Homo sapiens: one gene and its partner. The protein of the gene in region 2 purifies or fractionates together with the protein of the main gene of each other region. This does not show direct contact. Each region holds a gene or a part of one and is shown on either strand. Other genes may lie near its edges. The genes, in order: CWC27 and IGSF6.

Region 1 (3,828 bases), on a different chromosome or scaffold from region 2:
CTCAGGCAGCTTGGCTTCCTAGCTATCCAACTTTCTAGCTCATTGCACTAACCACATGGTTTTAGTTGGACATTATTTCCTAAGCATTTCCTTTCCGTTTCCACTTTCATACATGTCCTCATACTAGTTCCCCTTCTTTTGGTATGCTTTTTCTTCCCTTTTTTTACTGTTTAAGTCTACCCATTTTTAAATGTCTGTTCAAAATTCTAGTTTCTCCACACAGCCTTCCAGCTAGCATCCAGTGATATTATTATCAATGTCTCTAGTTTTTTTAGATTTGAGTCATAAAGTAACTATTTTTCTTTTTTTAAAATGCTGCAGAATTATACATCCACTGAAGTGTTTTTCCCTGCAGAGTATTCTCTTAGGGAAGTAAACCTTCCATTTTTAGAGCTTTTTGTTGGCTTCTAGAATACATTACATATGGTTTGGAATATCTCCAGCGGTGGCAAATCATTGTTCTTCTAAGTTATATTTGATTTTTAGAGACAGTTTTATTCAAGGTATCAGAAAACAACATTTTGGGTCAGAAGCAAGGTGTGAAAGAGAATCCAGTAGTATGGTATGATGAGATCTCTCTAAATAGACGTAATTATCAGGTGAAGATTTAAGAAATGAAAAATACCCAGATACCACCCCCTCTCCAAAAGAGAGAGGTGGGGAGGAGTGGAGCGAGAGAGAGAGAGAGAGAGAGAGAGAGAGAGAGAGAGAGAGAGAGAGAGAGAGAATGAAAGGACATCTGCAAAGACCATTATTAATAATTGCTGTGGCAGGCAGGAAGGAAATAGAGTCAGGTAGGTAGTTCAGTCAGAGAGGCCTCAAATATCTGTTAACCAAGTTGAGAAACACAGGAGACATGAAAAAGTCAGACTTGTTTCTGGTAAGAAGTTTTGAAGATTCAAAAGCTCAAGTTTTACAGAAGGAGAGTAAAATTACAAAAACATTAGAAAGAATGAATGGTAAATTGCAATCCATGACCAGGTGAATGGAAGAAGCAGAAAACATCTGGATACAATGTGACAGTGAAGAAGAAATGAGGTTCTTAAGTTGGGTGATGATAAAACTCAATTATTACAACAATTATTCCCCTATTTATAATAATGCAAGGAGAAAGAAGAAAGAATAGAAAAATAATTTTAAAAATAACCACAACAATTATCTTAATCAAATTCACCAATCCTCTTAATTGAATAGAGATAGAATTATTATTGGAAAGGCTAACATGAAGCCTAAGAAGACTGATTTAAACAAGGATACTCCTAAATAAGTTAAGTCAAGGTTTCAAAAATATAATCCAGAAAACCCCATTTTAGTTCTTTGCTTCTATGATTTAGACGAGTCATAATGTTTCTAGATCTTGAAACACTCATATTTATTTTTTTAAAGCATGGTTTCCAGAATTTAAAAGCAAATGAATAAAACATGAACAAGTAAGAGCGCAGTCTCAGATATGGCCCTCAACTAAAATGATGTTCATAGCCAAAGGATGGTTTATAGCCTTTAAAAAACCAAAGGATCTACATTATACAGACTTAATCTTAGATTTTTGGTCTTTGCAGCATAGTTAGGTGGACATTTAAAATGAGTGGAACTTTTAAAAACTTATCAATTAAAAAATAGAGCAAAAAAGATATAAAGGAATGAAAGGGAAGCTTATTAGCTTTGATAATTTCATTAGTTCCTCCAGTGTGAGGAAGGAGTATAATTTTATGTTTGTTTTATAGACAAGTGGGGAGCAGAGGGAGAAGTGGATAAGAAAATCAAAATGTTTAATACATTGTGTGACTACTAATCTCTTCACCTTTATTTCACATCATTCTTGTCTCATCATGGTCCACACTTCATTGCTTATCTTTTATTCTTTAATAATAGTTTACTAATTCTTTAGAGTGACAAATATAAGCATAAATATGCTATAAGTTAAAAGAAATTTCTTTACAAAACTAAAATATTTGTTTAAAAAAATACCAGATAGTGCAGACTGGTCGCAAGATGAGTGTTAGATAAAAAGTTATTAATGATAACATTTACATAGTTAAACACAAAACAGGATTCTAGAAGAAGAAACGTATAACTACTTTAAAGTGCAAGTATAAATTCCTCTATGAACTTGGGCAAGAAATATAATTAGTCAAAATATATGATAATGCCCATAGATTATTGTAGCCAGAAATAGAAACCATGTGACAAATACTAGAATGACAGCAATCAAATAGGAACTTTGTTTCATATTTAAGATACATTTAGGTATCTTTTTTCAATAGTGGAGAACATTCAGGAGGATATTATGAACGTGCATAATGAAATAATAAAGCTTTTTCAAAACACTTGTGATGATGCATAAAAATTTAAGAAAATCAAATAAACATTGCAAGCAGCAAAATATACAGTATTATAAACTATAAATACAACTATAAATGCATAGTTCAATAGTGATTACTAATAAATTACAAAGAAGTAGAAATAGTAGATATGGAAGATTTGTGGACATTGGAAATTCCAGCTATGTTAGAATACAAAGTTATAGTGTAGAGAGTATAGAAAATTTTTACTCATTTATATATAGTATAATAATTTCATGCATTCAACAGGAATATAACTAGGAAAATCATAAAGAAAATCTTAAAATAAAAAGCCAGCATCACTGAAATACTTAATGGGAAATAGGAAAAAGAAAGAAAATGGTGAAATTCTAAAATTTGAAAACACAAGTAATAAAGACCTCTTTCATGTCCTTTTTCCGTCACAGGTAACATATATCTGGGTTTTATGGATCTTGCTTCATAAGTAGTTCTTGAATCTGTGTATCTCAAGATAAGCCATAGTTATGTAATGACCTCAGGATAGTAGTTGCTTGCTTGCATTCTCTCACTGGCTCTCTGTCGCATGCACTTGCGCTGTCTCTTGCTTTCTTTCTCTCTCTCTCTCTCACTCCCCCTCTCTCTCCAGTCATGTCTCTTTCTAATATATTCACACTGGGTAAGAGTGACATTTTGAAAATGCAAATCTGATCATGTGCACAGTGCTCAAAAAGTATTGGTTGGCTGCTTATTATGGGTCTAGATGAATATTCATTATATGATATATACTGGGGTATATTTTATATTCAAATTTGAATATGAATTTGTAGCATTTGAGTGAAGATATTAGTTTGACCTCACATTTGTGTTGAACTTGAAAATGTGTAGTTTGCTTTCATATTATTTAATCTTCAGATTGACACTGTGCCTTAATTTATGTTATTAGATTTATGAGAAAATGGAGTTTAAGACTGTATAGCTAGCAAAAGGCAAGACTCAAACTCCTGACTGCTACATACAGTGTTAGTGTAACTGATGAAATGGTTACCTAGGAATATAGGAGAGATACTTTAAGACCTTTTGGTTTTTATAGTATCTATTTGTAACCAGAGGGAATTTGTCTGCACTAGGGAGCTCTTGTAAATGCAGCCCAACTGCCCTGCAATGGGAGAAGGGACTAAGCAAAAATCAGCTGGTCTTCCTTTCTACTTCTTATGTACTGTGTACTAAATACAGTTGTTAGAATACAGATTATAATTTTTAAAATATGCATTGTATATCCAGTTATACTTTGCAAATATAAATAATTATGAGGGTGTCTCCAAGACACTAAAATAGGAACTTTATAAATTATGTCAGTAACTGTATCAGTAAAATGCCTGGCCCACAGTAGATACTTGATAAATATTTTTCATTGAATGAGTTATATTCAGGTTGTATTCAGTTGCAGGTAATAGAAGACCCAACTCAAAATGATTTAAATAATAAAGACATTTATCCTCCTGTATGTCAAGAAATCTGGTGAAAT
Region 2 (3,828 bases):
TGGTCTCCCTTCCTCAGAGTCCTATTTTGAAATCGAAGGGCTGGTTGATTTTGAGTTCATGTTTTAACAATCTCTGCTCATCATACCAGGGTCCTTCCTAAGGGAAGAGACCCCAACAAGGCGAGGAGTTGCTGCTGTTCTCTTTTTTCCTTCAGAATCATGTAAAGCTTTTTCTCTGAAATTCCCCCTTTTTTTTTCTCGGGAATGTCTTAATCTCAGTTTACTCAAGGGAATGACTTGGTGAAATTACTGATAGGATTTAGCTATGTTTGATGTCCTCGCTCGGCTGAGGAATTGTCATGGGTTTTATCAAATCTCAGGAAGTGAGAGTCATCACTTTCCGTTCACTGATGTCCAGGCAGAATGGGAAGGGTCAGGGATCCCTGAGTAGCTTCTCTCCAAATCTGTGCTTATTCTCCATGTTGCATAGTTTCTGTGGGTCCAATTTATTGATCTTTTACACTTCTCTAGTGCTTTGTTCTAGGTGGTGCATTACCAGACTAGTTCCTGAGAAAGCTGATAGTTACTCACCACAAGGTTCCCTTTGGACATGGTACTTTACACTAAATCACTGTAATATACAAAAGAGGTGAACATGGTTGGTTAAACATCACCATGTAGGGAGAATAGAGCACCCAGCAAATCACTGACTTTGTGTTAGTGGATGTTCGAGATGGATTGGAGTAGTTCTTTTGTTTTTCTGAGATGGAGTCTTGCTTTGTTGCCCAGACTGGAGTGCAGTAGTGCGATCTCGGTTCACTGCAACCTTCGCCTCCTGGGTTACAAGCGATTCTCCTGCCTCAACCTCCCAAGCAGCTGGGACTACAGGTGCATGCCACCATGCGCGGCTAATTTTTGTATTTTGAGTAGAGATGGGGTTTCACCATGTTGGCCAGGCTAGTCTTGAACTCCTGACCTCAAGTGATTCGTCCACCTCAGCCTCAAAGTGCTGGGATTACAGGTGTGAGCCACCACGCCCAGCCAGTTGGAGTAGTTCTTTAGTCCAAACCTCATGGTGACTTGTGTTCAGATCACACCCATCACTGGCTAGGGTATTAACTTAGCAAATTTATCTCCTGATTTCTACATGTGAGTGAGGTAATGATTTTACAGGCCTGAACAAGATGCAATGATGCACTGAAATAAAGCCTCGCTGACTGACCTCTTACCACCAGTGTGGTCCCTCCTCCTGTCTGTTTAGCTCTCGCTTCCGGCACACTGGGGAATGCTATTCCACAGATGTAAATTGCACTGTCATTTGAAGTCACTCTGTTTACAGTGAGGGAAACTTGGTTTTCTTTGAGGGCCTCCCTCACTGTGAACTTGTCTGCCTCACTTTTGCACCCGTCCAAGCACAGGTTCTCAGGCTGGTGAGCACCGTAGCGAAACCACAGGCATGTTGGTTGCTCAGAAGGGCATCCGGTTGCGGAGAAGGTACACTTTATGGTGACGGCCTCATGAGTGTAGTCCACTTCTAGGTACCACGGTTGTGTGACAGAGAGAGTACAGGCGCCCACAGCACCTGTGGGAGGAAGCAGATGAGTGGGTTAATGGGCCTGCCACCTCACTTTGTGCTTTTATTATATTTTTGAGGTAGGAAACCCAGCCATTCTGTTATTTTTCTTACCTTAATCCCAATATAAATAAGACTAAAAATAAACACCAGTGGTCCTCACTTGCCCCAACTCCTCCTGTTTTCTGACCTTGACCTGCTGGGTCACATGATGTCTGTTCACTGGAGGCCAGCCCTAGAGAGGCTTCAGGGGAACAGAGTCCCTGTGCAGGAGGCCTGCATAGAGGTGGCACCGTATTGGACTCAGAAGTTTGGGGTCCATCTGTGACTCTTGCTCCTTACAAGCTTTCCTTCGATCCAATCACTTAATCTCCTGCCTGCTTTCTTGTCCGCACCCTGGCCTCCCCAGAGTGCTGTGTTCAGTGTGGTAACCTGTGTCCCCAGACGAACGTTGCTGCCGCTGATGGAGCCTATGAGCAGCAGCGATGTTTGTGCTTTGTGGGAGTTGAGATCGCCAGGAATTCATGGCCATTCACAATTGTTTCTTTGTGAGCCTGGTGTCCCTTTGGGAAACATGATAAAAGGCAACATGTACACCTGTGGAAATGCAGCCCTGGCTTAGCCTACCATGTCTTTGATTACTGAGCAGGGACCATATGAGCTCGCCAGGCCATAGCTAAGCAGATTTGGTTTCTCCCTGGCGTGTGTGCTGCTTTGTAGGCCCTTGTAGCATTTATCTTATTTAATTAACAATATTGTGATAAAGAGCACAGACTTGAGTTCAAATCCTAGCTCTGCCTGTTCCCAGCATTATAATCTCAGTATCTCAGTTTCCTCATTAGAAAATGGGGATAGTATTGTTGACCTCATGCAGTTAGTGTGACGTTCAAGATGATGCCTAGGAAGTGTTTACCTGCCTAAGCTATAGTAAGTATTAAATACAAGGGAGCGATTGCTGCTGCAGCCGCCACTGCTACTGTTCCCACAGTGTCAGATGGCTGTTGGAGAGATGGTTGTGGACGTCTAGCCACAAGGTGTTCACAGAGCTGGGATTAGTCACCCACTCCAGTGTACTGTCCACCATGTGGTGCTCTTCCAAGTTATGAGGATTGAGTCCCCCACCTTGGCCTTTATATCCCAGGCATGTGAAGCTGGAAAGCCACTCGAGTGCACAAATGGAAAGACCCGCCCTAAACCCTTCTTTTGCGGCAGGGGAGGCCATAGGTAAAATAGTATTGGTTGAGACAAATTGGAATTTGTCAAGTTTTTGGTCTGAGTTCCGCCTGGTCATATATTCCCAAATGGTCCTATTTGTGTGAGTTTGTCCTTTGCTACTGTAAATGAAACTGAAAAGTCATCCAAGTGGTCTGATGCTTAATTTTCAGACAGGGGCTTTTTTCTCTTAGCGTTTCTCTTATGGATCCCCATTCATAACAGCAGAGGAATTAAAGTTAGAATCATGGCGTTTGTGATGCGAGTCTCTTCTCACCATGTTTTTTTGTTTTTGTTTTCATTTTTGTTATTGTTTTTGGACAGAGTCTCTGTCTCCCAGGCTGGAGTGCAATGGTGCAATCACGGCACACTGCAACTGTGACCTCCCAGGTTCAAGCCATCATCCTGCCTTAGCTTCTCAAAAGTAGCTGGGACTGTAGGCCTGCAGCACTGTGCCCAGCTAATTTTTGTATTTTTTGTAGAGACAGGGTTTCACCTTGTTACCTAGGCTGATCTTGCACCCCTAAACTCAAGCGACCCGCTTGCCTCGGCCTTCCAAAGTGCTGGGATTACAGGTGTGAGCCACTGCGCCTTGCTCTCTTCTCATCATGTTATATTTTAGTATTTGTGCAACATGAGATGAGCTGGGAGCTCTGTGGTGACCTGATAAATGCAAACCAGACAAGAGGGTGCAGTCACCTGGAGGAGGCCTGCAAGCTTCTCTGAGCTTCGTGTCTGTGGGAGGCCCAGCTCAGCTCCATCTCCAGCCAAGGGGATTGGATTCCCTCTCAAGTCTGAGAAATACAACCTCATGTCTCCTGCCCAGACTCAAGCACCTTACAAGTACAGTGAAACATTTTATAGTATATACTGAGTGGAAATTTAAAATGGAATTGGGTCTGCCAAAACTTAGCAAAGTTAAGCACTGTCTCAGTCTCAAGTCATCTTTCAGATAATGTTTTTATTTTTATTTGTAAAATTATTTTTAAAAAGTGGACGATTCCATTATTTACACATTTTTATTTTTGAGATAGGGTCCCACTGTGTCGCCCAAACTGGAATGCAGTGGTGTGATCTTGGCTAACTTACTGTAGCCTTTGTCT

The links.
Region 1: the proteins of IGSF6 (region 2) and CWC27 purify together in Homo sapiens (affinity purification with mass spectrometry; 2 studies listed by BioGRID and IntAct, with this or other methods). This does not show direct contact.

Annotation. Positions count from the first base shown.
Region 1 is NC_000005.10:64,775,396-64,779,223, forward strand, and holds part of CWC27 (spliceosome-associated protein CWC27 homolog), read left to right. Parts: intron 1-3,828. UniProt on the Homo sapiens protein: As part of the spliceosome, plays a role in pre-mRNA splicing. Probable inactive PPIase with no peptidyl-prolyl cis-trans isomerase activity. As a component of the minor spliceosome, involved in the splicing of U12-type introns in pre-mRNAs.
Region 2 is NC_000016.10:21,645,971-21,649,798, forward strand, and holds part of IGSF6 (immunoglobulin superfamily member 6 precursor), read right to left. Parts: intron 1,523-3,828; coding exon 1,163-1,522; exon of another isoform or gene 962-1,162; intron 1-961.